Linked DNA regions of Homo sapiens: all the other regions are reported to be linked to region 1. Evidence: microRNA targets listed by miRTarBase, many of them from high-throughput screens and not tested one by one. Region 1 holds a microRNA gene; each other region holds the end of a gene's coding sequence.

Region 1 (5,074 bases):
TTAGCATGGCAGCTGTCAAATCATGTATGGTGTGCCCTGCTGTCAGGGCACAACAGCCATGAGCTTCTTAGGATGATCAGCCAATCAGAGCCTGCCCTTGGCAGACTCCCTCTAAGTTCATTCTGTAAAGGGATAAAGCCTTTGGCAGGTAAAGTTTTCACCACTGCAGAGGCACAAGCATTAGCCAAAGAAGGTCCCTTAGGCATCATGATACAGTCGAGGCCTTGAGCCAGTGACTGAGCAGCCATTATCTTTGAACCCTCCTGCCTAGCACAGTGTCTGGCATAGAACAAGCACTCAATACATTTTTGTTATATGGATAAGTAAAATGAGCAGAGAATAAATCCTAAAATCATAATTACCTTTTTTTTTTTTTGAGACAGTCTCGCTCTGTCACCCAGATTGGAGTGCAGTGGCACGATCTCAGCTTACTGCAACATCCGCCTCCCAGGTTCAAGAGATTCTCCTGCCTCAGCCTCCCCGGGTAGCTGGGACTATAGGCGCCCGCCACCACGCCCGGCTAATTTTTGTATTTTTAGTAGAGATGGGGTTTCACCATATTGGCCAGGCTGGTCTTGAACTCCTGGCTTTGTGATCCGCCCACCTCGGCCTCCCAAAGTACTGGGATTACAGGTGTGAGCCACTACGCCCAGCCATAATTACTTATTTTTAATTCTCTGTGTGTTTGTTTTTGAGACAAGGTCTTGCCATATTGCCCAGGCTGGTCTCCAACTCCCGGGCCCATGCGACCCTCCTGCTTTGGCCTCCCAAAGTGATGGGATTATAGGTGTGAGCCACCGCACCTGGCCAAATCATAATTACTTAAATCTACCTCCTAACTGGGCATGGTGGCTCATGCCTGTCATCCCACCACTGTGGGAGGCCAAGGTGGGAGGATGGCATAAAGCCAGGAGTTTGAGACCAGCCTGGGAAACATAATGAGACCCCATCTCCACAAAAAAATTAAAAATTATCCAGGTGTGGTGGCACATGCCTGGGAGTCCCAGCTCCTCGGGAGGCTGAGGCAGAAGGACTGCTTGAGCCCAGTAGTTTGAAGCTGCAGTAAGCTATGATTGTGCTACTACACTCCAGCCTGAGTGACGAAGTGAGAACTTATCTTTAAAAAAACATCAATCAATCAATCTACCTCTACTCCATTTTTTTTTCTTCTAGGCAAACTCAGCTCCTTATTAGAATATACGAGGCTGTCCAGGATGTGTTTACTATCTATCTTTCCAAACTTGCGTAGATGGTCCCCTACGCTGACTACTTTCCTACGGCCCCCTGTACTGTTTCTCACCTCTGAGCCTTTGCCTGTGCTGTGCCCTCTACTGGCAATACCACCCTTTCCCACTTTCTTTGATTAATTTCCACTGTTCCCCAAGACTCATATTATTCCCTTCAGAAACATTATCTGACCACCTCGTTCACATCTTTCTCAGCTACTCATCCCCTCCCCTACATACATACACACACATATACATATATATACACACATATATAATACACACACACATACACACACACACACACATATACTTTTTTTTGTTTTTTTTTTGAGACAGGATCTTGCTCTGTCACCCTGGCTGGAGTGCAATGGCACAATCACAGCTCACTGTAGCCTTGACCTCCTTGGCTCAAGCGATCCTCCCAACTCAGCCTCTTAAGTAGCTGGGGCCATAAGAGCATGCCACCATGGCTGGCTAATGTTCTGATGTTCTGGTGGAGACAAGGTCTCACCATGTTGCCCAGGCTGGTCTTGAACACGTGGGCTCAAGCAATCCTCCTGCCTCGGCCTCCCAAAGTGCTGGAATTACAGACATGAGCCACCACATGCCCCTGCCTTTTTTTTTTTTTTTTAATTAAAGAAGAGGTCTTGCTGTGCTGCCCAGGCTGAAGTGCAGTGGCATGATCCTACCTCACTGTAACCTCAAACTCCTGGGTTCCTCCCACATTGGCCTCCCAAAGTGTTGGGATTACAGGCATGAGCCACTGCGCTGAGCCAAGGTACTTCTTTTAATGTGTTCCTTTAACACCCTGTACACATTCCCACGTGGTGGTACAACCTTTAAGTATTTGTATCCCCAACTAAATTGTGAATTCCTTGAAAATAAGGACTGTTTTATTCATGCTTGTATCCCCAATACATAGCACAGAACTTTACCCTCAGAGGATGCTCAGTGTTTGATGAATAAATAATGATTGACAGAGAATTTGGATTCAGAGCTCATAGTACAGAGTTCTCTGCAGCCTCACATGACCCCCAACAAACATGAATGCTACTGCTCTTAACACTACTACTGGGGAGAGAAAGAGTCCTCTGATTACTATCGTAAAAAGAGAAGGTCACTTAACACAAATATGGGACAGAGAAATGACGGGGAGAAGGAGTATGCAACTTGGCAATGATACCTAATCTCTCCCTTTAAGGGCACAAATTCCACTTCTCACACAGACACACAGACAGCAGGCATGGAGTTCACTTTAGCACCTCTACTCTTCATAAGGCATTTCAGACATTTTTTTTTCCCTTCTAAAATTTCTGAGCTAATAGGGATCCTGGAGAACATACTGTCTAGTACACTTTCCTCATTTGACCTTTGAGAAAAACAGGGTCCAGAGAGATTAGGGTAACATCTCACCCCAGTAGCTGAATCTGGGGAAAAGTTCCAGTTTCCAGACTTTAAATCCAGTGCTCTATAATGATCTGGCTGCCTCTCTGCCCTCATCAAGCTCTGCCCATCCAAAAACCTAAGGGGCACTGTCTTGCTGGATGGGCATCCTCAGCAGCTCACAGACCTGGCCCTGCTGAGGCTGTGCGATGATGATCTGCCCAGGCTGGATGGTGGTCGTGGAGCTGGTGGTCTGCTGGCCTTGCTGCTGGCCCTGGACTTGGACAGCGGTGGGTTGCTGAGCCAGCGTGAAATAGTACTGGACTGGCTCGGCAGGAGTTACAGACTGGCGCACCTCCTCCTGTTGGGTGGAAAGAGAGGCAGGTAAGAGGAAAAGAACCAACTCAGCAGCCGCCACAGTGAATTTCCACTCTTCCCCCAAACAGGCTATGTGCAGTTGCCTGCTGAATGCTGAGCTCTCCACATTTGAAGCCAAAGGAAAGTGGAATTCAAAGAGACCAGTTATGCTAAATCAAACTAAAAATAACAGATCCTATAGGCTTCACAAAACATACAGCCAATTTCTGAAGTACGAAATAATCACCCATTGCATGATAAGTTGCAAACGGGCAAATAAGTACCGTAACTAAAAACCACACACCAGCAGTGCTTGTCAGTAAATGCTGTCAAGGCCTGTGATCTGAGAACAGTGCTAATTGCAAGTGTTGGGAAGATGCTACCCAAACATCATGCCTCTCAGGCCTGGTCCCAATCTCCCAAATAGGCAGCACTCTTCTCGTTTTAGCCCCACCACTTCAAGGGGGACAGAACAGGTTAATGGGAAACAGGGCTTTTCCTGAGCTGAAATTTCAGGATCGAGAGCACTGGTAGGCAAGTACCCAGCTTTTCACAGCTTGTTGAAAGCTCTGTGGTCACTGAGGGCATGTCTATCCAGTGTCACATCTGGTTCTGGTTGTACTTAGCCACAGAAGCGCAACCCAGGGGGCCTGATGGACAGCTCTCCGCTGGGGTACTGCCTTGGCTGATTAGGGAGGTCGCATTCTGTCCGATCTGCGGAGTGGAGACTGTTCCTTCTTCAGCTGATGTTTTCCATGGCAGAAGGAGTAAACAACCCTCTCCCAGCCACCTTGAGCTCACAGCTGAGAGTGTAGGATGTTTACACACACTACAGCATGGTTATAGCCCACAGGGTCCAGGGTTGATCAGCCCCTGACCACTGACACAGAACGGCGTCTGATCCGGAGTGACCTGTGTGACACATGGTGCCCCTGCCTGGGACAACAAAAACAATAAAAACACAGAACCACTTGGGCTGGCTGAGTAAAAATATTAGCTAAATTTACTCATGTCCTTATTCAGGGCAAAGTTTGCCACGTTCCAGAAAAGAGGAAAAGACACTTCTTAGATGTACACAGACCCTGTGGATTGCCTCCAACTCCCCAAAGTAACATTTACAAAGCTGGTATTGACCCCATCCCCACACTATGTTAGGTGCCCTCAACTGTGCTTCCAAAGTACTGTCCTCACAGTATACATTTTTGCACTTGCATGTCAAATTAACTGTCTGTTCTACTAAAATGTTAAGCACCATGAGGGCAAAGCCTAGCTCTCTCTTGCTCTCTGCTATCCCCCGCGTTCCCAGGTAGGCACTCAGTAAGTGCGTGATGAATGATGAATGGATTTAGACAGGCAGACAGTTAGAGGCAGGAAAGTAGTTCTCTGAATCCAACTTGCTGATATGACAAATTCTCTTAAACCCAACAGCTGTTACCAATAGAAAAAAGTAGTCTCTAAACTCTCTTTTGGTACCTCTAAGACTCTGTGGCCACAGTGTGAGGAAGCAGCTAGTGTCCCCTGTGGAACAGAGCTGAGTATCCTTTGTTTGCCTGATGTCTGGGGGCTAGGATACTAAAACTAGGACTGCCAGTATCTACCCCTGAGAAACATGGGTCTCTGCATGACATGGTTACTTGACAGCCATCTACCCAGCTTAGGGAGATACCTGTAACATTCTGGGTTTCTAAGTTAATATATGAACTGACTTTTTAGGTTGATATAGTCTGTGCTTCAGACACAAATAGTTTTAACCCTCAATATGATTATGCTAAGGCAGAAGGAAAAGGAGATTCCCTTTTATTTTCATCTAGGTCTCAATTTCCACAACAATTTCAACCCCAACTTATCATCATTATAAATAAATGTCAGCCTGGAAACTAGGTATTGGCTGTGGCAAAGCTAAAATACTGATACCTTTTGCAGCCAAGAAACAGAAGCCAACTGCTCTTTGCAAAGCTATTGAAGTAGGTTCAAGGTACTTGTGTTCCACTGAGATCTCCCTTATTATTTTACAAAAAGCACAAATCACTGAAATCCAGACCTAACTTGGAAAAGCTCTTGGGTAATGAGAGGGTATACAGGAATGAGAGCCTCAGAACCAGCTG
Region 2 (5,074 bases), not on the chromosome of region 1:
ACTTGTCAGCACATCTGGGAGCCAGGAATACCCCTCCTCCCCCAGCCAGGCCAGAGGGCCCCCGACTAAGTCCCTTAGAGGAGGGTGTCTTCCCTTCTGAGGATTGAGAAGTGCAGAAAGACTTCTGTTATGGGGTATGGGATGAGGAGAGAAGGGAGCCGGTGCTGAGCAGAGTCATCTGGGGGAGAGATTCTTTCCTGGCCTTCCCAGCAGCTTGTTGTGTGGGCTTGAGCATGTTGCTTCCCTTCTCTGGGTCTCGGTTTCCTTGTCTGCAAACCCAAAGGGTTGGTCCAGTCTGATCTGAAATGGAAAGACACACCAGGCGCGGTGGCTCACGCATGAAATCCCAGCGCTTTAAGAGGACGAGGTGGGCGGATTGCTTGAGCTTGGGAGTTAGAGACCAGCCTGGGCAACATAGCAAGATCCCATCTCTACAAGTAGTACAAAATTTAGCCAGGTGTGGTGGTGTGTGCCTGTAGTCCCACCTACTCAAGAGGCTGAGGTGGGAGGATCGCTTGTATTCTGGCAGTTGAGGCTGCAGTGAGTTGTGATCCTGCCACTGCACTCCAGCCTGGGTGACAGAGCTAGACCCTATCTGAAAAAAAAAAAAAAAAAAAGAAGAAGAAGAAGAAGTGGAAAGACAGAGGAAGGTTGGGATGGGCAGTGGTCTGGAGGAGGGAAATGAGTCTTCTTGCCTTTGCAACTCCACAAAACCAAGTTTCAACCTCCCTGGGGTGGGCAGGGAGAACTACTTCCTCCCTGGCCAGAGAAGATCAAATTCTTTTGCTAGCATTCTGTGAACACTGGACAACCTGGCTAAACAGCTGCCTTCTGGGTCAAGCACAGGGACCCAGTGGCTGGGCACAGTGGCTCATGCCTGTAATCCCAGCACTTTGGGAGGCTGAGGCTGGCAGATTGCTTGAGTTCAGGAGTTCGAGACCAGCCTGGGCAACATGGCGAGACCCTGTCTCTACGAAATATACAAAAAAAAAATTAAAAATTAAAAATAACTGGCCGTGGTGATAATGTGCCTGTAGTCCCAGCTACTCAGGAGGCTGACGTGGGAGGATTACCCAGACGTGGGAGGTTTACCCAAACCCGGGAGTTCAAACCTGCAGTGAGCTATAATAGCGCCACTGCACTCCAACCTGGGTGACAGAGTGAGACCCTGTCTCAAAAAACAAAAAAGTACAAGGACCCCAGGTTCACGGTTCCCTCATGGCTGTTATTCCAGTGAAAGGGGAACTCTGTGCAGCTGAAGGCAGTGGTGGCTGACCAGCAGACCCCAGGGCGAGGAAGACTCATCATCCTTCTGGAAGGCACTGGGGAGCCACACCCCACTGGGCCCCCTCACCTGCACTTGTGCTTTGGGAAGGTGGCCCTACCTGGGTTTACATTGCCAGTCTGGAGTTCCTTCATGATGCCTGTGGTGTGGCTCCCATATGCTCTGTCCCCTCAGCCGCCTCGTGCCTGGCCTGGCCCCTTCTCGTCACTTCAGGTCATTTTCTCCAAAAGTCCCAGGAAATAGGAAAGAAAAACGACTTTGTTTATTTACTCTCTGTTGCCTTTTGGACCCCGATTCCTGGAGCAGTATATTGGGTGCAAGGGGGCCAGGAAGAGGCTCTGGTATTTGTGTCATCTGAGAGAGATAAGGGCCCCTGACTTGGGGTTAACACTCATTTCCCAGCTGTCAGGTCACGGGGATCAGAGAAGGAGGCATGAAAGGAGAATACCTCAGAGAAGGTGGTTTTGTTTTTGTTTTTGGTTTCTGTTTTTTAAATGGAGACAGGGTCTCGCTATATTGCCCAGGCTGGTCTTGAACTTCTGGGCTCCAGCCCTTAGCCCACCTCGACCTCCCAAAGTGCTGGATTACAGGAGAGAAGACGTTTTTTGCTATTAGAAGAACCCTAGTGCTGAAACCCCAGAGTTGGGGGGAAGGGTACTAACCTCTTGGCTTTTAAGGAGGGACTCACTCCGGGGGCAGGTATATGCTGAGTGTATAGAGAGGCAGAGAGGCATGGGCTTTGGAAATCAAATGCTCCTGGGTTCCAATCCTGTTTTCCCCATATTCCCAAGTGGTGTGCCCTTGGCCAGGTTGCTTAACCTCCCTGAACCTGAGTTGCTGCCCCTACTTAGTTGACAAATATTTACTGAGCACCAATCTAGGCACCAGAAGTGACCAGTCCAAGTCCTGGCTCACATGGGGCACGTGGCCATGTCTGAGAACATGGGGATGAGAATGCCTGCCTTGTGGGAGCAGGTGGGATGCTTAATCCAGGTAACCTCTAAGTGCCCCTTAGTGTTTAAATGAGAGTGACTAAAAATAGATGGGCTGAGGGGAGGATACCTTCAGCCCGGGAGCTGGAGACCAGCCTGGGCAACATAGCGAACCCTGTTTCAAAAAAAGAGAGAGATGAATAGATGGGTGCTTTTTGGGAGGAGGGTGATCCTGTCCGCTGCTCAGGTTGGGGCCCCTAGGAACGGGGAAGGGAAGCAGGCATGGGGAGCAGTGGCCAGGAAGCCCCTGAATGCCTGGGGTCCTGTGGTGGGGGAGGGGGTGGGGCTCCACCTGCATGCAAGATTTGCTTCAGGACCACCCCTCCCCCCACTTCCAGTGAACCTGGCTAGACTGAGGTCATAGGTCACCACTAGGACCCCATGTCTGGGCTTTCTCGGAACGACTCCCTGCCAAGGAACCAGAGCGCCTCTAATAGCCTGGAGCCTCTAAAAGCTTTGACCACAGCTCAGCTTGCTCCCTGCAAGCCCTTTGAAGCGCTTCCTTCGAACTTGCTTTGCATATTCTGGTCAGATCTGAATCAGACTTGCAGGAATTACCCCTCTCGGTAAGTCTAGGTGGCTGCCTTAGCTTGTCAGTGACACACGAGGCAGGCGTGCTGACGTAAGGCTGAGACGTATTCGATTCCACCCTCTGCGGCTCTCTTCCTCCTCTCCGATGCAGAGTGTGGGTGTGGGTGAAAGAGAAAGCAAGGCACGGGGCGGGGGGCGGGGGGGCAGGGGTGCAGAAAAGGCTCAAGTCATGTTTTTCATTAAAAAATAGTGCTCTTTATTATAAATTACTGAAATGTTTCTTTTCTGAATATAAATATAAATATGTGCAAAGTTTGACTTGGATTGGGATTTTGTTGAGTTCTTCAAGCATCTCCTAATAGCCTCAAGGGCCTGAGTAGGGGGGAGGAGAGAGGACTGGAGGTGGAATCTTTATAAAAGACAGAGTGATTGAGGCAGATTGTAAACATTATTAAAAAACAAGAAACAAACAAAAAAATAGAGAAAAAAACCACCCCAACACACAACTGCCCTGTCCAGCCCAATACCTGACACAGAATACTTTGTGTTTGTTTAGTTGCCCCCCCCCACAAAAACAAAAACAAAAACAAAAACAAAAAACTGTTCCAGGTAATTCCATCGCTGCTACATTCCTGTAAATTGTCACTGATCAGTGCTATGGCAGAGCGGGAGCACCCGGGGTGGCAGCAGTCCAGCCTCTCCAATGACCTCCAGCCTCCCCCACCCAGGCAGGAGGGAGGGCTGTGCAGGGCTCGGGGCAGTGGGACCTGGTGGCTCTGCTCTGACCACGAGGCGCCTGACTGGCCAATACTTACTGGGCTGACATTCCCAGTGCTCAGCTGGGAGGCATGGGTTTCCGCCCCCCCTCCCCACTTCCCTGGCTGTGGGCTGGCTTGGTGCCCTCCAGTGAGTCCCTCAGCCTCTCCACCCATCCAGGCTGAGTATGTGGCTTTCCTATGCTGGGTCCCTCTCCATGGGACAGGGAGCATTTAAGGCGAATCTCTTAGCCAGACATAGTCAGGAGGCACAGAGTAGAATCCCCTGTCTTCTCTACCAGGAGCCTGAGGTGAAAGATGTCCCGTCTCCTCCATCCTCCCGCTCCATCCACCCAGGTACAGGAAGGTATAGTATGAGTAGGAAAAGGAGACCAGCTGACCAGCCCATCCATCCCCTCCAAATGTTGCTTCCCCCTTAAAACGGAGGAAGGGCCCTGGGCTCTCAGGCACCAGGTAGACTTTGGAACCTGTGTTTTCGGTGACTGTCCCGGAGGAGAGGATGTGGGGTACCAGGATGGTTCCCTTCAGGTCACCCCAAGCCCTTCTCCCCGGAGCCAGGGAGAGGAGCATGTCACCAGGATCCTCGCCTGGGGTGGGCGGGGGGTGTGACCATTTCCTTCGCCAGCCCGCAGCCCTGGGGCCCTCAGGACCTCTCTCTCTTCCACCTTTCCCAGGCTCCACAACCAGCTCAGGTTTAAACCAAATCAAAGAGCAAACAAGTTCCGTTGGAAAGTTTGAAGATTCCCTGGCAGTTCTCATTAGTTCAGCATTCCCGAAGTGTCCCCTGTTTGGAGGCAGAGGGGAAGCTGAGGAATTGAAGGAGAATCCACTTGTGGTTGCTATCGTCCCACCAGGACAGCTGGCTCCTCCGGAGAAGCTGGAGACTCAGGTGGTACTCCCCCTTCCCTCCAACACATTCCAGGTCCGCCTGCCACATTCTGCAGGGAGAGGGCAGAGGGAGGGGCCTGTCCGCCCTCTTTCCCCCCAGAGCTACAGGACTCTCTCCTGGTTGGCTTCTTGTGCTTGTGCCATGTGCCACGGAGGAGAGGGGCCTGCGTCCCCTCTCCCGACCCATGCCCTTTGCGCCCTTTACCCCTTAAAGCGGGGCATCGTACTGGTCCAGGAACTCCCGAATGGGCCCCGGCAGCTGGGTGACTTTCTCATAGGAGTCCAGGTGGCCGTTGACGGTCTTCCGACAGAGATGCTGAAGAGTGGCCACGTTGGAGGAGAGGGGCCGGCTCAACACCAGGGGGATCTTCTCGCCCCCGGAGTAGATGTAATAGGCTCTTCTGGGGGGACTCCCAGGGAGTGGCTGGGCAGACGGCTGCTCGGGCACCTCGGAGGAGGGTTCAGTAGGTGGCGAGGGGAAGGAGGGGGCTCCAGGGGGCGGCATGTAGTGGTGCACCAGCTTGAGCACGCAGTCGAAGCGGGGCACGGGCTGCGTGCTCCGGGGATCGCTCTGCAGAGAGAAGCTGCCCCCCTCACACTGG
Region 3 (5,074 bases), not on the chromosome of region 1:
CAGTCTCTGCCTCTCCTGTGCCCTTGCACCACCTCTCCTAAAGAATGTTTGTCTCCTGCTTGTCCTTTCTGGTCCTTTCCCCAACCTCCCATCTCCTGGGATTGGCCTCTCTGCAGCCTGCTCACACATGGTTTCTTGTCACTCACTCATATCTGCTGGAGAGCTTTCCTCGGCTGCTGTGCTGCAGCTCCCCGAGCTCTCGGTGGTTGTCACACTGTGTGCTCCTGCCCACCCTCATGTGCTCTTTACTTCCCTGCTTGGTTGCATGCCTGATGCCTTGGATTTTAGCCATCACCCATGGCCCTCACGGGATTGGCAGGACCGTTGAGATGCAGGGATCCATCCCATGTAGCAGTGTGTGACACAGCCTGCCCCAGGTGTTGGGGGATCCTGGCTCTTGGCTCTTCTCAGCACAGTTCCTCCACTCACTGGTGAGGAGCTGCTCTTCGCTGCAGAAGGATGCTCATGTGGGTGAATGTGGTTTGCCAGGAAGCCAGCCTGCTGGGTGTTTTGCCAAGGGCTTGGGCCGCTTCACTTTTCCTCTCCTCGCACAGGGAGCCGCCAGTGCTGGGGCCGTGATGTAGCCTCAGCTGTGGCAGTGAGAGTGAGAGACTGTGGTCTCTGCAGCTGCCTCAGGGAAGACAGATGCCTAAAACAGGAGGTGCAGGCTGGGAAGGCTGTTCTGAAAAAGTAGAGATCAAAATGTGTGTGCTGCACTAGGTCTCTAAAATCATGGCTTTTCTCTTCCCAGATATTGTGAATAACAAGATGGTGCATTTTGATCTGCTTCATGAAGACGTGTCCCTTCAGTATTTCATCCCTGCGCTGTCCTAGCACCCTGTCGCTGGAGTTGGCATGCAGAGACTTTGTCAGGATGGGAGAGGCCGCAGGTGTTGTGTTCTGATCACTGGTCTGTGCCCTCACAGCACCGCACATCGACACACTGTACTTATTTGTCCCTCTCTAACATTTTAACTAAAAGTTGATTCAACAACACACAGTTGGATAAACATATCACTTCATGTTGCTCATGTCTGTTTTGCTTTGTTTTTAAGACACTGAAAAGAAAAGCTAGAATTTATTTATTCAGACTTTAAAGAACAATTTCTCATTGATGTTGTGAAAATCGTCATGTATTTAGACTTGGTGTAGTAGCCAGAATTCGTAAAGCTGTTGCCTGGGAGCTTGGTACTTTCCCTCCAGGCAGAGGCTCTAGCTCAGCACGGCCTGTAGCGCACAGTCAGTCTTGCATTTCAGTGTGTTCACCCCGCTGCTCCTGCCCCTTGGAGCCCAGTGACAGAAAGAACAGCCTCTGTCACCCCGCCGCCACTGCCTTGGTTACTCAGAGCACTGTGGGGTGTCACAGCTGCAGCATTTGGAGTCTCTCTCTTGCTGAGGACTCAAGCCCACCTGAGTCCACTCCCCTCTTGATGCCTAGAGAGCTGGCCCAGCCAACACAGCTCTTAGCTGGGAGCTCCTTCTGCCATTCCAACTAGTTTCTTCCTGGGGCCAGTTTTGGGTTTAGGTTGTAATTCCTTATATTTCTTTCTTCCACAGTGTATCGGATCTGTCGTTCTGGAAAGAAGACCCTTCTATTTAGAGTAGAAACAAACGAAACTTCTAAGGTATCATCTGTGTTAAGTGATGAGACCATATTTCTTTGATGTTTCTGAACATCAAAGCTGATTCAGTACTGGTAGATGTGCTCATTCTCCCTGAAACATACCCATCATATTTCCTATTATAATTACATCTCATTGTCCTGTGGAGGTGGACATGATAAACATTATCTTTTGTTTTCTTGTTTTGTTTTGTTTGAGACGGTCTCATTCTGTCACCCAGACTGGAGTGCAGTGCCACAATCATGGCTCACCGCATTGACCTCCTTGGCTCAAGGCATCCTCCCACCTCAGCTTCCTGACTAGCTGGGACTACTGGTGTGCACCACCACACCCAGCTAATTTTCAATTTTTCATAGAGACAGGGTCTCACTGTGTTGTCCAGGCTGGTCTTGAACTCCTGGGCTCAAGCCACCCGCCCACCTGGGCCTCCCAAAGTGCTGGGATTACAGGCATCAGCCATCACACCCATCCATAAACATTATATTAATGTCACATTACAAAACTGAGACCTAAGTTGCTTAGGATAAAATGAAATTGGAAGACTAGCTAACATGAAAATTTATATTTTGGCTTTTTCATGTTTTTTGATAAAACCAGTGTATTTGAATGATTCTTTTGATGTTTAGTAATGGTTTTTTGTTTGTTTTTTGGTTTTTTTTTTTGAGACGGAGTCTCACTCTGTCGCCAGTCTGGAGTGCTAGTGGCGCGATCTTGGCTTACTGCAGCCTCCACTTCCCAAGTTCAAGCGATTCTCCTGCCTCAGCCTCCCGAGTAGCTGGGACTACAGGCGCATGCCACCACGCCCGGCTAATTTTTGTATTTTTAGTAGAGACGGAGTTTCACTGTGTTGGCCAGGATGGTCTCGATCTCGACCTCGTGATCACCCACCTTGGCCTCTCAAAGTGCTGGGATTACAGGCGTGAGCCACCACGCCTGGCCTATGTTTAATAATGTTGAAATAGGATGGAATATTTTGTTAAATTAACATTTTAAAATTAGAAGACACCGTTTTAATTTTTAAACCCTTCCTCCTCTCATTGTAACGAAATTAATTCCAGCTGCAGTGAGAAAACTTAAAAATCATGATACAAAATGAAACAATATCTGAAAGTAGTTTTATAAAACTGAAATTGCTGTTAAAGAGAATGTGTTAGTGACTTAACCATTTGCTCTATGTGATGTTTATTATCAAATACATATAATTTTGAAGATTTTAATGAATGGCTTAAGATTTTATCTTTGTGTAGAATGTGGCTAAAGAAACCTTAGTTGAGATTCAAGAAGTTGGTGTCTGTTTCTGATTCTTATCACAACTTGCTACTTAGTGTCTACCAAGTCCTCCACCTCTTTGCTCCTCAAAGAGCTGTGAAAAATGATGGCAGGAGCCGGTACAACACCACAGACTTAGAGAAGGGCACAGTGCTGCTTTATTGAATGATCTACCAAGGTAAAATTTTGCCGGGTCAAGAAATAGCAATTTAATCCATTTAAAGGAATGAATATAATTTGAAACATTAACTTATTTCAAGACTAACATCTCAAAGTGTTGAGACCTTTTTTAAAAGAGCTTTCTGGATTTTGAGCATACTTTCACTGGCTGTGATTTATAAGAATTTGTGGTTTGTGGAGTACTGTCCTAAATGCCAGGGTAAAATAAGGCAGTCCCATGCCTTACCTGCCCTGGGCTCAGGGCCTCACATCCTTTTGGTACGCACATCTTTTCTCTTCTCCCTTGTTCTGCTCTCCCGCAGCATATACCTCCTAGCCCCAGGCAATTACTTGTCTAATATCTATCTCTATATATTTGCCTATTCTGGCTTTTAGCTTTTTTTTTTTTTTTCCTGAGGGAGACAGGGTCTGGCTTTGTCCCCCATGCTGGAGTGCAGTGGTACAGTCATGGCTCACTGCAGTCTCAAACTCCTGGGCTTAAGCAGTCCTCCTGCCTCACCCTCCCAAGTAGCTGGAACTACAGGTGTGTGCCACTGCGCCCAGCTAATTTTTATATTGTTTTGTAGATATGAGGTTTTGTACGTTGCCCAGGACTCCTGGGCTTAAGCAGTCTGCCCGCCTCAGCCTCCCAAAGTGCTTGGATCACAGCTGTGAGCCACCACACCCAGCAATTCTTTTTATCCAAGAATTTTATCACCTGAGTTTTGAGGTCATTCTGTGCCATATCAGAGACACTTAAGAATTTCCCATTCCAGTTGCTCCTGGCTAGCATCCAAGTGGCCCTGCCATCCTCCTCCAGCCCTTCCTTGGCCCAGCAGGGAACTGCTTGGCCATCAGGTCTGTAGGCTGAGTTTATAGTGAGGTACTGTGCCTGGTGTGAAGGAGCCCACTCTTGGGGACCTAGAATGTGGCCTCAACAGTAGTCCTGGGGTTGGGATTCTGGTTCAGCCACTAGGCAAAGGTATTTAATGACATTCATGTTCTTAGTGTATGTTGCCAATTTAGCAAAGCATCCATCGTTTTGAAGAAATAACAATTCAGAACTTTTTAAAACAGCTGTATTGAGATATAATTCACATATCACACAATTCAACCATTTAAAATAGACTGTCTAGTGGTTTTTAGTATGTTCTCAGAGTTGTACAACCATCACCACTATCAATTTTAGAACATTTTCATCACCCAGTAAAGAAACTTCTTAACCATAAGTAATCATTTTTCATTTTTCTCTTCTCCCTTATTCTGCTCTCCCCCACCATATACCTCCTGGCCCCAGGCAATTACTTGTCTAATATCTGTCTCTATATATTTGCCTATTCTGGTTTTTAGCTCTTTTTTTTTTCTTGGGGGAGACAGGGTCTGGCTCTGTGCCCCAGGCTGGAGTGTAGTAGTACAATTATGGCTCACTGCAGTCTCAAACTCCTGGGCTCAACCAATCCTCCTGCCTCACCCTCTCAAGTAGCTGGAACCACAGGTGTGTGCCACTGCGCCCAACTAATTTTTGTATTTTTTGTAGAGATGAGGTTTTGCCACATTGCCCAGGCTGGTCTCAAACTCCTGGGCTCAAGAAATCTGCCTGCCTCGGCCTCCCAAAGTGCTAGGAGCACAGGCATGAGCCACCACACCCAGCAGTTCTTTTTATCTAACTGTAACTATATATCGTTGACCAGGATCTGCCTTCCCCGCTGCCCCCAAACACTTAAGCATCTGGTAACCACCATTCTACTATCTCCTATGAGATTTGCTTTTATAGATTCTAAATATAAGTGAGATCGTGTACTGTCTGTACCCGGCTTATTTCACTTAACATAATATTCTCCAGGGGTTCATCCATGTGGTTGCAAATGACAAGATTTTGTTCTTTTTTATTGCTGAATAGTACTCCATTGTGTATATGTCCATTTTGCTTATCCATTCATCTCTTGATGGTCACTTAGGTTGCTTCCATAACTTGGCTATAATGAATAATGCTACAGTGAACGTGGGAGTGCAAGATGCCTTTT
Region 4 (5,074 bases), not on the chromosome of region 1:
GCCCACTGCAACCTCCGCCTCCCACGTTGAGGCAATTCTCCTGCCTCAGCCTCTTTTTTTTCTTTGAGACAGTCTTGCTCTGTTGCCCAGGCCGGAGTACGTTGGCGCAACCTTGGCTCACTGCAACCTCCACCTCCTGGGTTTCAGCGATTCTCCTGCTTCAGTCTCCTAAGTAGCTGGAATTATAGGCATGCGCCTCCATACCTAATTTTTGTAATTTTAGTAGAGATGGGGTTTCACCATGTTAGCCAGGCTGGTCTCGAACTCCTGGCCTCAAGTGATCTGCCCACCTCGGCCTCCCAAAGTTCTGGGATTACAGGCGTGAGCCACCGCACCCAGTCTTTTATTTTAATATACATTTTAAAGGCTAAGTGAAGCAGTGGAAAGGGAGAAGGAAAAAAAAATCTGTTAACTGGTTGTGATCAACTAGTTGCAATACTGCTGCACTTAGACCAGCCACGACCCCACTAGCTTTTCTATAAAGCCCAGTGAGGCTTTTTTTTTTTTTTTTTTTTTTTTTTTTTTGGCTCTCAGTTGACACCTAGGCTGGAGTGCAGTGGTGCGACCATAGGTCAGTACAGCCTCAACCTCCCAGGACTCAACCAGTCGTCCCACTTCAGCCTCCTGTGTAGCTGGCACTACAGGTGCACACCACCAAGCCTGGCTAATTTTTAAATTTTTGTGTTGAGAAAAGGTCTCACTATATTATCCAAGCAGGCTGTTTTAGTTGGCCTGTTTTAAAGGACTAAATATATATTTTTCCCCCACAGATTTTCAAATCAGAGAGAAGTAATGCTCCTGCTGTATAAAACATGAACTTGGTGTTGGATGTAGTTTTTGTCAGTTAGTTTGTACTATCATTACATGCTCTGAAGGAGGGAGAGTTTGAAGGCACAGCCCTCTCACCCAGTTGGGACTCTCAGTGACTTCACAAAGAGATGGCACTAGAACTGAATCTGACAGTACAGAAACATGTCACTGGCAAGAGGGGGAGGACATTTCTAGAATAGGAAATTATAGTTAAGTCAAGGTATGCTGAGGTAACAGAGATGATGGAATATAGGGCTTATGTTGAATGTTTCTTTCATCCTAAGGTTGCTTTTTTTTTTTTTTGAGACAGAGTTTCACTCTTGTTGACCAGGCGGGAGTGCAGTGGGGCAATCTCAGCTCACTGCAACCTCCACCTTCCGATTTCAAGCGATTCTCCTGCCTCAGCCTCCTGAGTAGCTGGGATTACAGGTGCCCGCCACCACGCCTAATTTTTGTATTAGTAGAGACAGGGTTTCACCATGTTGGTCAGGCTGGTCTCAAATTCCTGACCTCATGATCCACCCGCCTCGGCCTCCCAAATTGCTGGGATTACTAAGGTTGCTTTTTTACCCTAGTATTTTTATAATGATCCCCCAAAGTTCCAGGAAACCCATACCTTCTTTATTTTTAAGATGCAGTTTCACTCTTGTTGCCTAGGCTGGAGTGCAATGGCACGATCTCAGCTTACCGCAACCTCCGCTTCCTGGGTTCAAGCGATTCTCATGCCTCAGCCTCCCAAGTAGCTGGGATTACAGGCATGTGCCACCACGCCCAGCTAATTTTCCTCCCTTTATTTCTTTAAAAAATAGAGACAGGGTTTTACCATGTTGCCCGGGCTGGTCTTGAGCTCCTGGACTCAAGTGATCCACTGCCCCCAGCCCACCCCACACTCTTCTTAAGTCAAGGTTTCAATGGTCACCACATACTCTAGAGGAACAGTTTGTGGCAACTTAGCTTGGTACCACAAAGGAAAACCAGTTTCACAAGTGGCTTACTAGAGAACCCCTACTTTTCTTTTTCTTTTTTTTAAGAGACAGAGTCTCACTCTGTCACCCAGTGGCACAATCTTGGGTCACTGCAACCTCCAGCTCCCAGGTTCAAGCGATTCTCCTGCCTCAGCCTCCTGAACTACAGGTGCGTGCCACCATGCCCGACTAATTTTTTTGTATTTTTAGTAGATATATTGGCCAGGCTGGTCTCCAACTCTTGGCCTCAAGTGATCCACCTGCCTCAGCCTCCCAAAGTGTTAGGATTACAGGTATGGGCCACCACAACCAGCCTAAGTTCATATTACTTACTGAGTTCATTATTTCTTGCATGTGTTTCTTTTTTTTTCTTTTTTTTTTTTTTAAGAGATGGGAGTTTCACTCTTGTTGCCCAGGCTGGAGTGCAATGGCGTGATCTCAGTTCATTGCAACCTCCACCTCCTGGGTTTCAAGAGATTCTCCTGCCTCAGCCTCCCGCATAGCTGGGATTACAGGCATGTGCCACCATGCCCGGCTAATTTTGTTATTTTTAGTAGAGACAGGGTTTCTTCATGTTGGTCAGGATGGTCTCGAATTCTCGACCTCAGGTGAACCACCTGCCTCGGCCTCCCAAAGTGCTGTGATTGCAGGCATGAGCCATTGCGCCCGGTCGCATGTGTTTCTTAATGGCACCTACCTGCATTTCCTAGCCCCTGAATATCTTTAGACTTTTATGTTAGTAGCTTATAGTAAGATATTATGGAGGATCATAGGTATAGGACTCTGACTAGACCTCTAGCTTGGATGCAGCAAGACTGAAACAGCTGGACTAGTATTTTGAGCAATCCTAGGCCTTGGAGAAATTTCTCAGCCACCCAACTTGCACAGGAAAAACTGAAGCCTTGGCGTCCTCTGGTGGTAGACTGGTTATCAGAGTCAGACATGCTTCTCAACTAGGAATAGGCAAGCATGAAAGTTCACAGAAGCCACAGGATAAACATGGCACATTTTCCCAGATCATCTTTACTTAAAGATTTTTTGGGAGAAAAAGGTAGGCAGCAAACATTTTTATATTAAAACAAATGCAGATAGTAATATTGAAATAGTATATAAAATTGACATTACTTTTTGAGACAAAGGAAGAGACATCAAAGACATTTTAAGCCGAGCTCCTCATGAGCTTCCTAAACCCCAGGGGAGGGAAGAGACCCCTGCATTCTCGTTCTGTCTAATATTATCAGTGGGGCTGTTTTGACAGAGAAGTCTCAGAAGCAGCGAATTAAGTGCTTACTCATTTGGCAATGTCCCAGTGAGTTATATAAATAAGTGAAACCACAGGCTTTCTCATTTTAGAGCATTTTAACCTGCTTTTTAGAAGGCCTGAGTAAACAGAAGCTTTATGCTTGAGTTGAATTTTATTTTCTCCCAAAGTGATTTTTTTCCTCCTATAAATGTTAACATGCTTAACTGAGGGTATGGCATGTGAGGTGGTCAGTGTCCTAAGACCCATGTCGACTTGGGTTGGCATTACCAGACATGGAGTTACAAATATACTTTCCAAGGCTGTCATCAGAAATGCAAAACTACTCACCTTCGGCAACAATAACAAAAAGGAAACAAAACAAAAAACTGAAGAACAAAAGATTATATATAATTAGAACTGTATGGTGTAATTTAAGCACTGGCAAATACTTGGCTCTTAAAGAAGGGGGTTACTCCTGCAGGATCTGCTTTTCATATTTTATGTGAAAACAAGAACTTCCTTTGAGGAAAAAAGTGCCATTATACTTCCTTTCCAAATCTTGCTTATTTTCTGTAATTGTCTTTTTCTTTGTTGTTGCTGACCCTTTATCTTATTTATTTTTTTTCAGGTAGCCTCTTGAACTAGAGTAGGCTCAGAGGCTCCCTGTAGGTGACATTTTATTACTTTGCAATAACAGACTGAAGGGGCAGATCCTCACACAGACTTTCTAGGGTAATGTAGCAATGTACTGTCCTTTTCTTGAAGTATGAGAGACAAGGTCAATGAAATGTGCTTAGAAGCATAATGGGAGTCAGATTCTGGTGCATGCTACTGACATTTTAGGGTCTACCCAAGAAAAAGTAATTCATAACCTCCCATATAGTTTAATTTAGTGATTTTGTTAAGTTTTACAAAATTATTTCTCATTTTTCTTGGAATTCTACTCTTCATTTTACAAAGCCTTAAATTGAGACTCAAAAATCACATGACAAAGTGCCTGTAGCTTCAGGAAAATACAACTTTTTTTCCCTTCTGGTTAAGTAAAATAAGAATTTGGAGCAAAAATATCCTAATTCAGAATAACTAAAGGGGGAGTATCAGTGGTAAGTTATGTTGTGCTGGAAAAAAGAACAAAAAAGGCAGACACCAAACACCTGAATTTTCCCAAGATTAAATGATTATTAAAAAAGCGCGCCACACTGTATAGAAATCAACATTCTCTCCCATAATTCTGTGCATCTGGGACTACAGAAATGTCACTGTCCCTGCCCCACATCTTCAAATTAACATTTTCAGGTCACAACAATAAGTCTTCCCAAAGGGGACCTTCCGGAAAAATAAGCTATTTCCTCGGCTCATATTCCCCTGGAAAACAAAACAAAACAAAACACAAATAATATCTAGCGAGATGAGATCAGCCAATCCAAATCAGCAGAGAGGTCCAATTGGGAGACGTGACTAAATCTAGGACAAAACTGGGACTATCACTACAGAACAAGGATTAGTATTCTCTGAAAGGCTGAGCTACTATGAACTAACTACAATTTCTCCTTATTAAGTTCTTACTCTGGGCAGACAGAACGCCCAGGTTGGATTCTGGCTTTGCCACTTTCCAGCTGGCTTAGCAAATGAGTCATGTAGAACAGTGCCTAACATTCAGTAAGTGCTAGCTTTCATTTATTTCTTTGTTTTTCTTTTTTGAGATGGAGTCTCGCTCTGTTGCCCAGGCTGTAGTGCAGTGGTGCAATCTCGGCTCACTGCAACCTCTGCCTCCCAGGTTCAAGCGATTCTCCTGCCTCAGCCTCCTAAGTAGCTGGGAAAGGAACGCGCCACCGTGCCTGGCTAATTTTTGTACTTTTAGTGGAGGTGGGGTTTCACCATATTGGCCAGGCTGGTCTCAAACTCCTGACCTCAAGTGATCCGCCTATCTTGGCCTCCCAAAAGTGCAGGGATTACGGGTGTGATCCACCATACCCGGCCTATTTATTTCTTAATGAAATGAAATCATGTTTCTAAGGACTACTTATAAAATCTTATAATCAAAGTAATAACAACC
Region 5 (5,074 bases), not on the chromosome of region 1:
GTGTGTATGTGTGTGGAGGGTTGTTAAGTGCAGAGCTCTGTGACCAGTTGTACTTGTTCCTTATCATTCCATGGCCCTCTCAGTTTGTAAATCATGAGTTCAGACTCTGTATTGTCAGTTGTTTCATCTGGTTTCAGGGGCCCAGATTATTGTTCCTCTCTCTCTCTCTTTTCTTTTTCTTGAGAAGCAGTTTCACTCTTGTCACCCAGGCTGGAGTGCAATGGTGCAATCTCGGCTCATTGCAACCTCCGCCTCCCAGGTTCAATCAATTCTCCTGCCTCATCCTTCCCAGTAGCTGGGATTACAGATGCCTGCCACCATGCCCAGCTAATTTTTGTATTTTTAATAGAAACAGGGTTTCACCATTTTGGCCAGGCTGGTCTTGAACTCCTGACCTCAGGTGATCCACCTGTCTTGGCCTCCCAAAGTGCTGGGATTACAGGCATGAGTTACTGCGCCCAGCTATTGTTCCTCTCTTAAAATAGCTTGCCACATTTTGACACTATAAAGCTAAGATTAAAAAAGGCTCTAACACAGAAGCCAGAGACTCTGTTCCTCCCTGTGCCTTAATTTCCCTTAATCTACACTTCTGTGAGATGAGCATCATTCCCTAGCTTGGCATCTTGCATGGACTTTTTTTTTTTTTTTTTTTGAGGAGATAGTATTCTTGCTAGGGTTTAAATGGATTTTGCTTGCTATTCAAATCACAATACAGAAATTTACTTTAGGCCAAATATTCTTCACTGGCTTTGAGACACTTCTCTGTGTTCTGAAAACCATTGATCTTTACCAACACATAGCCCTTTTCATTTTTTACACTGGTTCTATTGCAGGAACCTGCTCAGGTCTCTGAACCTGCATTAGAACACTGAATCTTCATACTGACCTTATGAGGTAGATAACATAATCAATTGACAACGATACTATTGACAACTAAGGGAAATTAAGGCACAAGGAGGAACACACAGCTTGAAGGAGACAGTACCAGGTGCAGGAACATGGCCCTAGAAACTCAGGCGGTGTATGCTGGGCTAGAGACAGTAAAGGAGAGAGGCAGGACATGGAGGGAAACCCTGTACACTTTTCTGGCACTTTAAGCTCTAGGAGCACTTCATTGTGCCCAGAGACATTTTAAATCATTCCATTCTTAACTGATGGCAGCGATTCTCTACAGAGGCTTTTCTAGTTACCCTAAAGTTACAGTTGTTGTTTTTGAGCCCAAATGCAATTAAAGCTTCAGTACTTATCCATAGAGTAGCTAGCTAACTTGATGCCGGGAGCCCAGACACTGACTTTCTGGCAATTTAATTGCCTGTGGCTGGTGCTTTTTGTTTTTTCCTCTCCCAGCCTTGTCTCTACTTTCACTTACACTCCCCTCACTCCTCAACCCTCCCCCAAGAGGTACATAGGAGAGGTACTGACATCCCTTAATCTTGTCTTCCTCCCCTCCCTCCCCTCCTTCTTCCTCCCTCCTTCTCCCCCTTCCTCACTGACCACCTACCTAGAACTTCCTTCCCAAGATCAAAAATATACCTCCATGCCCCATCCATTGCAGCTTTTCCTCCTGAATATTTTCCCTAGTCAGGGACACGCAGTGACTTTCCATTCACTGTTATAACTCACATGGTAGAAATAAAAAAATATGCAACATTTCCTCAAATCTCATTGAGATTACAAATTAAACTTTGAAAAACAATTCCTGGTATTTTCTTAATTAAATATCGAATTTTTCATGTGTGATTATTTTCTGTATGTAATTATGTAATGAGAAGATATTTGTCTAGTATTTAAATAGGTTCTGCAGAAGATATGTGGGGTTTTGCTCAGATCTTCTTTGCAGAGTTGAAGAAAGAAATGTTTAGATCAGTTTAGTTTCATTTTGCTTAACCAAAGATCCAGAATCCTGTTGAGAGAGAGAGAAATAATGAAAGTAAAATTTAGCTGTCACAGAGATAATGTCAGTACTCTAAGCCTTATTTTGGGTTAGTTTTGGCACATTATGGCCAGTTTGGAAATCCTATGCCCACCCTCTTCTGTAACTGGCATAACAATGCCATTGGGATTCAGCTATGCAAGTACCTCCACTTTTCTTGGCATGCCATCTGTACCAAGCACATGCTCTGAGTTCCATGGGTACACCTCATCACTGGAACTTGGCATCTGGTGAATTGTTTAGACTTGTGGGAGATCATCTAGACTTGACTTTTCCTGAAGATCTCCTGCATACTAATGTTCTCACCGCTTGCCATTTGGAGCTATTGAGGTCTAGGGCACTAACACCATGAGGAGAGCTGCTGTTACAAGAATTGTGCTGAATATGAAAGAGGGACTCTTCCACATGCCCTTATTGCTTAAGCATACTTTTCCATTGCATGAAGAATATTGTGGGTTGTTCATGTCATCTTTCAACTCAATCTTCATTACAAAAGAGATTAACTAAATTCTTATAAGCTTCTGACAGGTGGAAATCCTAGTTTCCAACACTGGTACAGATTTTACTACAAAGTGTCATGTACCTTTGCTCATTTTTAAAGGAGATTTGAAAGGAAAAGTCAGTTAAATATGATGGAGACAGGAGGCAGAGAAATTCTAGGTAGAAAAGGGTGAGTCCCCAGTGAAAACCCTACCCTCAAGCTGAAATGCCTGAAACCCCGGCCCAAAGTGAGAATTTATATCCCTGTTTTCCTACTTGAATGTTGCCTTTTCCTAAACTGCCCATGGCCCGCCCTGCCTGCAATCCTGTGCCTATAAAGACCCAAGACTCAGTCAGAGAGGAGTGGAGACTATGGCTGGACATTGGAGAGAAGCAGCTTGACTTCAGAGGGACAGCTTGACAGTGTAACTTCAGAGAAGAATCCAGCTGGACAGGGCCAGACTTCAGGGGAAGATCACCTACCCCACTGTCCCCTTTTCAGCTCCCTTTCTCACTGAGAGCCACTTTCATCAGCAATAAAATCCCCCTCATTTACCATCCTTCAGTTTGTTTTTGTGACCACATTTTTCCTGGACACCGGACAAGAGCCTGGGAGCCATGAGTGCCGATATAAAAGGCTCTCACATTCGCCATTTGCCCTTGCTGGTGGAGGGCAGCTGTCCCACATGACAAGGCAAAGGGCCCACTGAGCTGTTAACACTTAAGCCGTCCACAGACAGCAGAGCTAAAAGAGCACTGTTAACACATCTTCTGGGGCTTCAGGAATCGCAGGCAACCCCACCTGGATGCTACCACAGGGCCTGCACAGTTTGTTCCTGCCCATGCCAAAGCGGCCAGCCAGTTCCAGTGCTTGTACACTCCAGTTCCTGCCTTGTTTGCCTGTGCACTCCCTCCCAGGAGGAGTTGAGAATGGCAGGCTGAGTAAACAAGGCACCCCTGTCTCGAGTCCTGTGAAGGGGTCAGGGAAATATCCTGCTTCAAATGTACCATCATTTAACTGAATGAGTGCTCAAAATACCATCTGAACACATTTCGTTTAAAAACAAAAATCAAATATACAAAAAAATCAAGTTTTTATTTCAAATATTTGAATCTAATAGATCATTATTTAGGTTTATACTCTGTGAATATATATATGATATTGTATTTAATTAATATCTGAGTAATCTCAATTACCATTTTCTAGGAAGGATAGAGTGTAAGAGCTAAACATTTCATGTAGAAATATTAACTTTCAAAAGTTATAATACCAGAGTTTTAGAGTGAAGGAGTATTTAAAATGTGTCTTTCTTTGGGAGAGAATCATTTTGTTCTTTACTAACAATAATTTGAAAATTGGTAATTTAATATCTTGTGAATATGAAAATATTATGGTATAGATTAGCTTCTAGGAGAAGTTAAGTGTAGCATGATTTCTTGAAGATTAAAAAAACATTTAACTTTTTAAAGATAATATGCATATTGAATATTATTTGAACATAATAGTAAAGAAAATTATCTTTGAGCTTTTTTGAATATATGGCATTTGCAAAATAACATTAGCTCTTATGCATGAAATAAATTGTAACTAGATTTAATAGGACAAGATATAATTTATATAAAAATTAATAAGGCCTTAGTTAATATTTGGTAGTAAAATGGACAATGAATCAGAGATCATAATTCAAAGCAGTTTTTCAAAGGAAGTTTCATTAATAAATGCAAAAACTCATATGTCCTTTTTCTCAAATTGACAATGAGTATTAAAAAATGTACAAAAACCTTTATAAATCAGTTATACAGAAGATAAACTATAATTTGAAAAGCAAAAGTATACAACCAGAGCTACAGGCCTTACAGCTTAATTCATACAGGTATGAGTTTAGATAGTCTCAATCAATATACAGACTTCAGATTTCCTGAGGAGACTTTCACTAATCCACTACCACACTCCTGATTTTTGTTCCTGGCTGCCAGTGCTTTCAAAAAACATGAAGTCCTAGATAAAAACAAAAGTATACAAATGAATTTTCAACAACAAAACAGAGATCAATTATCAGATGCAGAAATACTAAGGGATCTAGTGAAACACAGTAACAAATCTGTTAAAAAAATTAAATGTAATAAGTAAATATACAAAAGCTCTATAATTATATAAGTTCTGCCTTTGGCTTTCCATTTTAATAATAAATTCTATAATTCTATTCATTTATTGATACCTGTATGAATTTAATTAATCTTCCAGTCATTTTCTCTAAATGTTACTTTTTCTCTATCCCCATAATTCTCATCTTTGGCTGCATACTGGAATCACCTGGAACACTATATGAACTTCGAAGTTTCTGATTTAGTTGAACTGAGGTATGGACTAGTCCTTGGAGTTTTTAAAGTCCCTAGGTGGTTCTAATGTGAAGGCAATTTCAGAATCACTGGTATATCCAATTATTTCCTGTAATTTGGTAGTTAGGTCTACACACTTGAGTGAATGTACACTCTTATTGTACTTCATACTCCTATATTAGATGGTTTAATTTAATTACTATGAGTCATGGTAAAGTTTCCTTGTTTCACTAAATTTTTTCCACATATGCCTACTTTCAACTTCTTCCTCAAAGCATCTAGGAGATGCCTGATTTAAGGGGAGACTAAAATCTCTCCTTA
Region 6 (5,074 bases), not on the chromosome of region 1:
GCACACTTGTAGTACCAACTACTTGGGAGGCTGAGGCGGGAGGATTGCTTGAGCCCAGGGATTGAGCCTGTGTGACACAGTGAGATGCTATCTCAAATGATAATAATAAATTCATATTTGCTTTGGCTTTATTTTAGAGGTCTAAAACTTGCTGATTCATTGAGTCTTCTGTCCAGTTATTGAAGGAAATTGACCCATCAGATATTCATTCATTCCATAACTATCTGAGCCTACCATGTGATAGACAGCTGGGCTGGTCCCTGGGATATAGCACAGAGCAGCTGAAGATATGGCAGGCTTTTTTGGAGTTCACAGTTTAATGGGGGAAGAAATACACTATTGAAATGATATGCAAATAAATGTAAAATTACATTAGCATGCACTGAAGGAAACGTATACAGTACTATGAGAATGTATTTAAATATCCTGGCCTAGGGGCTGCTGGGGAAAACTTTCTTGAGAAAGTGTTTGAACTAAGAGCTGAGAGTTGAGTTAAATAGAAGCTTGGGGTTGTGTGTGAGTACTTAGGTTAATTAGTTTATTGTTTCACTTAATTATGTATCATTATTAGATTTTGCTGTATCCATTTTCCACATTGTAGTTCCTATTTTCATACTTAATTTGGCCCATTTGTTGAAACCTCAGTACATTTGAGGCACTTTAAACTGATTGGTTAAAAGTCATTACTTAATAGCTGAAGAACTGGCAGTAGTTTGACTTCCACATCTCTTCCACAGGTGATTAGCCAGTCAAGAGCTAGGTTTAATCCCAGTATCAGCATGATTAAGAAGTGTATTGAAGTTCTGATAGACAAACAATACATAGAACGCAGCCAGGCGTCGGCAGATGAATACAGCTACGTCGCGTGATGTCGCTCTCCTCCAGCGTGGTGTGAGAAGATCATTGCCATCACCATTTGGTGTGTTCCTGTGGGAAAAAGCAGGACTGTGCCTCCATAATTTGGTCATTTGGCAGCCCCTGTTTTCTGCTGTTTACAACATCACCAGTGCCACGTCATGAGCGTCAAAGAAAATGCCTAGAGATATTTCAAGCTCATGTCATTATGACATTTCTTAAAACTTTATTAAAAGAATGAGTGAAGTATTGCTGAAAAGTGGAAATTCGGTTGGGTACCATGCTTTTTCTCCCCTTCACGTTTGCAGTTGATGTGTCTTTTTTTTTTTTTTTAATGTATCTTAAAGGACATAAAATTTAAAAACTTAAATATTGTAATATGACAGATAACCTAATAATTGTATCTACATTAAAATGACAAACATGATACTGCTGCTTGTCAAATAAAAAAAAAATAAAGAAATAGAATGCCTTTTTTATGTGGATGGAGTATCAGGTTGACCACAAAATATATTGACTCAAAGCAGCTAATGCATCTTTAGTTGCGTTTTTATCTGAATGGTTTAATTCACTTGTACTCCTATTTAAATCCTACATGAAAAATGTCTAGATTATTGTTCTTGACTGCATAGGACTGCATTCAGCATAAAGAATGCTTTATTTTTATGGATTAGATATATTGGATCTAAACATTTTGAATCTTGAAGATGTAATTCCATCAGCAGTTTCTGGTGGTGTGCTACTCCACAGACATCGCAGAGTGTGAGCAGGATGCTTGGTGACCTCAAGTCTGGCACAGAGAGAGCTTTTCATTCAAAAGTTGTCTTTCTTCGGTTGCATAATCCATTAATTCTAGCATAGACTAGTACCCTAGCTCTGTGGCCTTCCCTGAGTCTTAGGAAATCTATGATACCAACATATTCCTTCTATATGCCTCCCCTACCTGTTACCCTTACAACCCTCCTCCAACAGTTTAGATACTAGAGTCACTCTCATCAATCACAGATGTGCTTAGCAATGCATAACCTAAATACTTTTTTAAAAAAGAAAATTGTACATTGTACTGGGTGCCACATATATAAATCCCATTATTTTGTTTATTTTATATATATATATATATATAATATATATATATATATATCTCAACAGCAGTGTTAAGAGTACTGCGATCTATTATCATATTTATTGTCTATCCACACCATCACCACCACCACCACACCCCTCCTCCCTCAACATACAATTTTTCTTTATTTTAAAAAAAATAAGAGACGGGGTTTCGCCATGTTTCCCAGGCTAGTCTGGAACTTCTGGCCTCAAGCAATCCTATCTCTGTCTCCCAAAGTGCTGGGATTACAAGCATGAGCCACTGCATCCATCCAACACAAAATTTTTAAAATCGGAATATTTTAAAGCAAATCACACAAATTATTTCACTTATAATACTTCAGTAAGGCCTTTAAAAAATCCACAGTGATATTATTACTCCTAACAAAAACAATAATTACTTAGTATCATCTAATATGTGGTTCATATTTAAATTTGTTGTTTTGAGATGGGTCTTACAATTGGTTTATTCAATTGCATTTTTTCTAACTCGTGTCTCAAGTGTTTTAAAAATCTACTGAACTTATAATGACTTATATAATGTATTTCTCATTTTACCTTTCTTCCAAAAGAGGAAATAATGGCAAACCATATAATATTGTACATTCACTGTCAAAAAGCAAACCCTTGTTTTGATAACTTGTTGATTGATAAAAGTTTTCCAAATTGATTCCTTTTTTTCTTAAATATTTATAAATGTTAAATTAAGTCTTATCCTGGTATCTAATTGTCAAGAAAATATACTGAAAAATGGACAAAATACTTGTGCGGAGGTCTACAGAGATGGCTTACAAGAGTTTTCTTCACATCCTTTCTCCATTTTATCTGAAAGGAAACATCTCTCGCATGAGGAAGAGAGGCCAAATCTGTTCAACCAAGGCACCATTCAGAAAGGGAGCAATGTTTGGAATTCATTGCAGCGCACACCTTCCCCTGCAGAGAGTGCTGGGAAGAGTTGCAGTCTTGTCAAGTTAGGTCAGGAGATTGAAGTCATCACTGCAGAAGCTGTAGCACACAGCCCAGAGCTCTGACCTGGCCGCCCTGCTGTGCAGTAACTAGTGCGAGTGGGCAAAACAGCTCAGAGCTATGAAAAGGAAAAAGGAGCAAGGAGAGGAGGATTTTCTATGCTTCACTGCAGAAAACACAAGTAAGCAAAACCCTCAGAAGTTTTTTAGAAGTCATTAATACTAAGGTAGTTTACGTATGTGAGTCAGTGATGCATTTTATAGCCAGCCAGCATGAGGCCTTGTCCACATGCCAGTCCTTTCCCTTTGAAAGCAAATATTTAATTGCTACTGAAGGTGCAGACTTATTTTAAGGTTTAGTCCAATATTTTATGACCATTTGCTTTAATATAAACAAGCACTCTGGGGGTTGTGTGTTTGTTTTGTTGTTTTAAGACAGGGTCTCGCTCTGTCACCCAGGCTGGAGTGCAGTGGTGCAATCACGGCGCACTGCAACCTCGACCTGCCAGGCTCAAGTGATCCTCCCACCTCAGCCTCCCAAGTAGCTGGGACCACAGGCACATGCCATCACACTCGGCTAATCTTTGTATTTTTTGTAGAGACGAGGTTTTGCCATGTTGCCCAGGCTGGTCTCAAACTCCTGAGCTCAAGCAATCCACCTGCCTCGGCCTCCCAAAGTGCTGGGATTAGAGGTGTGAGCCACTATGCTTTATTTTCTTTATAACTTACTATCTTTTTAGGATTTTGTAACCTATGTACGCTACCATGCTATCCCATGTCTGTTCACTTTTTTAAAAAACCTTTTTGAGTATAAATGATGACAGGTGCTTCCACCTATGTTATTTTGTTTAATCTTCAGGTAATCCTGTTTGATAGGCAATGCTTCTCTTTTTCATAGGTGAGGAAACTAAATGAGACTTTTCCAGGAGTTACTGTTGTAAACTGCAGAACCTGAATTTAAATGCCAGTCAAATCCATGGATGTTATAAGTATGGCCTCTCTGTATAGGTATATAGCCTCTAAAATAAGTAGAAATAACTTCATTTCATACATAAAGAATAGTTTTTCCTGACCTTTTAGAATAACAATTTGTTTCTAGTTAAATAATGTATGATAAACACATCATATTTTTCTTAAGATACTTAAGATGATGTAAACACGGTTAAGGAATTTGTCTTGGCACATAGCTGATTCATGACAAAGCGTATTTGTGAATTTAGTGTTTTACATTCACATGTACTATTACAGAACATTTATTTCACAGTGTATATATACTTAAAAGTTGTTATCAGTTAATTTTGTTGAGCTATGTACTAGAAAAGGATAATTATTCACCTCTTGATTTTTGGTTCCAAGAATAAATTCTTGGTCGAGCAAGGTCAAAGTCAAGATGCGAACTTTAAAAATACTAGTCCTTGGCTGGGCACGGTGGCTCACGCCTGTAATCCCAGCACTTTGGGAGGCTGAGGTGGGTGGATCACCTGAGGTCAGGAGTTCAAGACCTGCCTGACCAACATGGAGAAACCCTGTCTCTACTAAAAATACAAAAAATTAGCCAGCCATGGTGGCATGCGCCTGTAGTCCCAGCTACTTGGGAGGCTGAGGCAGGAGAATTGCTTGAACCCAGGAGGCATAGGTTGCAGTGAGCCAAGATCGAGCCATTGCACTCCAGCCTGGGCGACAAGAGCAAAACTCGGTCTCAAAAAAATAAATAAATAAAAATACTAGTCCTAAGGTCTGTTGCAGATGGGCGATAGCGAAATGAGTGGAAATTAATATGGAGAGACCCACTAGTAGAAGATTGCTGTGTTCTTGAAGCGTATCAAGGCCAAAGCAATTAAATTAGGCAATCCTTTGAAATATATGGCCCCATAGGCTAGAATTCATTAAAGGTAGGATTTACTGATGGGGAAGAATGATAATTTTCATAAGGAATGGCTGTGCTACCTATGAAATTGTAAGAGATTTTTTTTTCTTCCACTGGCCCCTATCCACAACCCAGGAAATTCCTCTTCGTTTTATCATCTAGCAAACAGGTACTGGTGCCAGGGCATTACGCTGGGTACAAGATATGCGGTGATGAGCAGAAAAGATGCTGTCTGTGCTCACATGGAGCTTCCGGTCTTTAACAATCAGTCAGAACTGTGTCA

The links. Region 1 holds the annotated microRNA hsa-miR-30c-5p (UGUAAACAUCCUACACUCUCAGC, at 3,772-3,794, opposite strand). A microRNA usually pairs through its seed, bases 2 to 8, with sites in the 3' UTR of a target mRNA and lowers its output. Matches are read on the target gene's strand: a 7mer-m8 pairs with bases 2 to 8, a 7mer-A1 pairs with bases 2 to 7 and ends in A, and an 8mer does both.
Region 2: the mRNA of SOCS3 is a reported target of hsa-miR-30c-5p. Seed matches in the 3' UTR shown: 8mer at 3,249-3,256.
Region 3: miRTarBase lists HUS1 as a target of hsa-miR-30c-5p. The part of its 3' UTR that is shown has no 7-base or 8-base seed match.
Region 4: miRTarBase lists MTCH2 as a target of hsa-miR-30c-5p. Seed matches in the 3' UTR shown: 7mer-m8 at 3,160-3,166.
Region 5: the mRNA of PLSCR1 is a reported target of hsa-miR-30c-5p. The part of its 3' UTR that is shown has no 7-base or 8-base seed match.
Region 6: miRTarBase lists CUL2 as a target of hsa-miR-30c-5p. Seed matches in the 3' UTR shown: 8mer at 990-997.

The regions. Positions count from the first base shown.
Region 1 is chr1:40,756,020-40,761,093 of GRCh38, reverse strand. MIR30C1 (microRNA 30c-1) reads right to left here and starts at 3,810; the gene lies at 3,722-3,810. NFYC (nuclear transcription factor Y subunit gamma) reads right to left here. Exons shown (of 10, transcript NM_014223.5): 6 at 2,800-2,973.
Region 2 is chr17:78,353,738-78,358,811 of GRCh38, forward strand. It overlaps SOCS3 (suppressor of cytokine signaling 3), which reads right to left. Exons shown (of 2, transcript NM_003955.5): 2 at 3,041-5,074. The coding sequence ends at 4,681. Among named protein-coding and RNA genes, the nearest start is that of SOCS3, 3.8 kb to the right of the region's middle. RefSeq lists enhancers at 843-1,344, 1,668-1,717, 2,543-3,042, 3,100-3,749 and a silencer at 2,777-2,964.
Region 3 is chr7:47,961,116-47,966,189 of GRCh38, reverse strand. It overlaps HUS1 (HUS1 checkpoint clamp component), which reads left to right. Exons shown (of 8, transcript NM_004507.4): 8 at 752-2,902. The coding sequence ends at 834. Among named protein-coding and RNA genes, the nearest start is that of PKD1L1, 15 kb to the right of the region's middle.
Region 4 is chr11:47,614,537-47,619,610 of GRCh38, forward strand. MTCH2 (mitochondrial carrier 2) reads right to left here. Exons shown (of 13, transcript NM_014342.4): 13 at 2,781-4,383. The coding sequence ends at 4,297. Among named protein-coding and RNA genes, the nearest start is that of C1QTNF4, 23 kb to the left of the region's middle. RefSeq lists a silencer at 3,017-3,076.
Region 5 is chr3:146,511,690-146,516,763 of GRCh38, forward strand. PLSCR1 (phospholipid scramblase 1) reads right to left here. Exons shown (of 9, transcript NM_021105.3): 9 at 3,491-4,412. The coding sequence ends at 4,356. Among named protein-coding and RNA genes, the nearest start is that of PLSCR1, 30 kb to the right of the region's middle. RefSeq lists an enhancer at 2,463-2,964.
Region 6 is chr10:35,006,106-35,011,179 of GRCh38, reverse strand. CUL2 (cullin 2) reads left to right here. Exons shown (of 21, transcript NM_003591.4): 21 at 738-2,629. The coding sequence ends at 869. It overlaps LOC124902409 (a long non-coding RNA gene), which reads left to right and starts at 4,582. Exons shown (of 2, transcript XR_007062110.1): 1 at 4,582-5,074.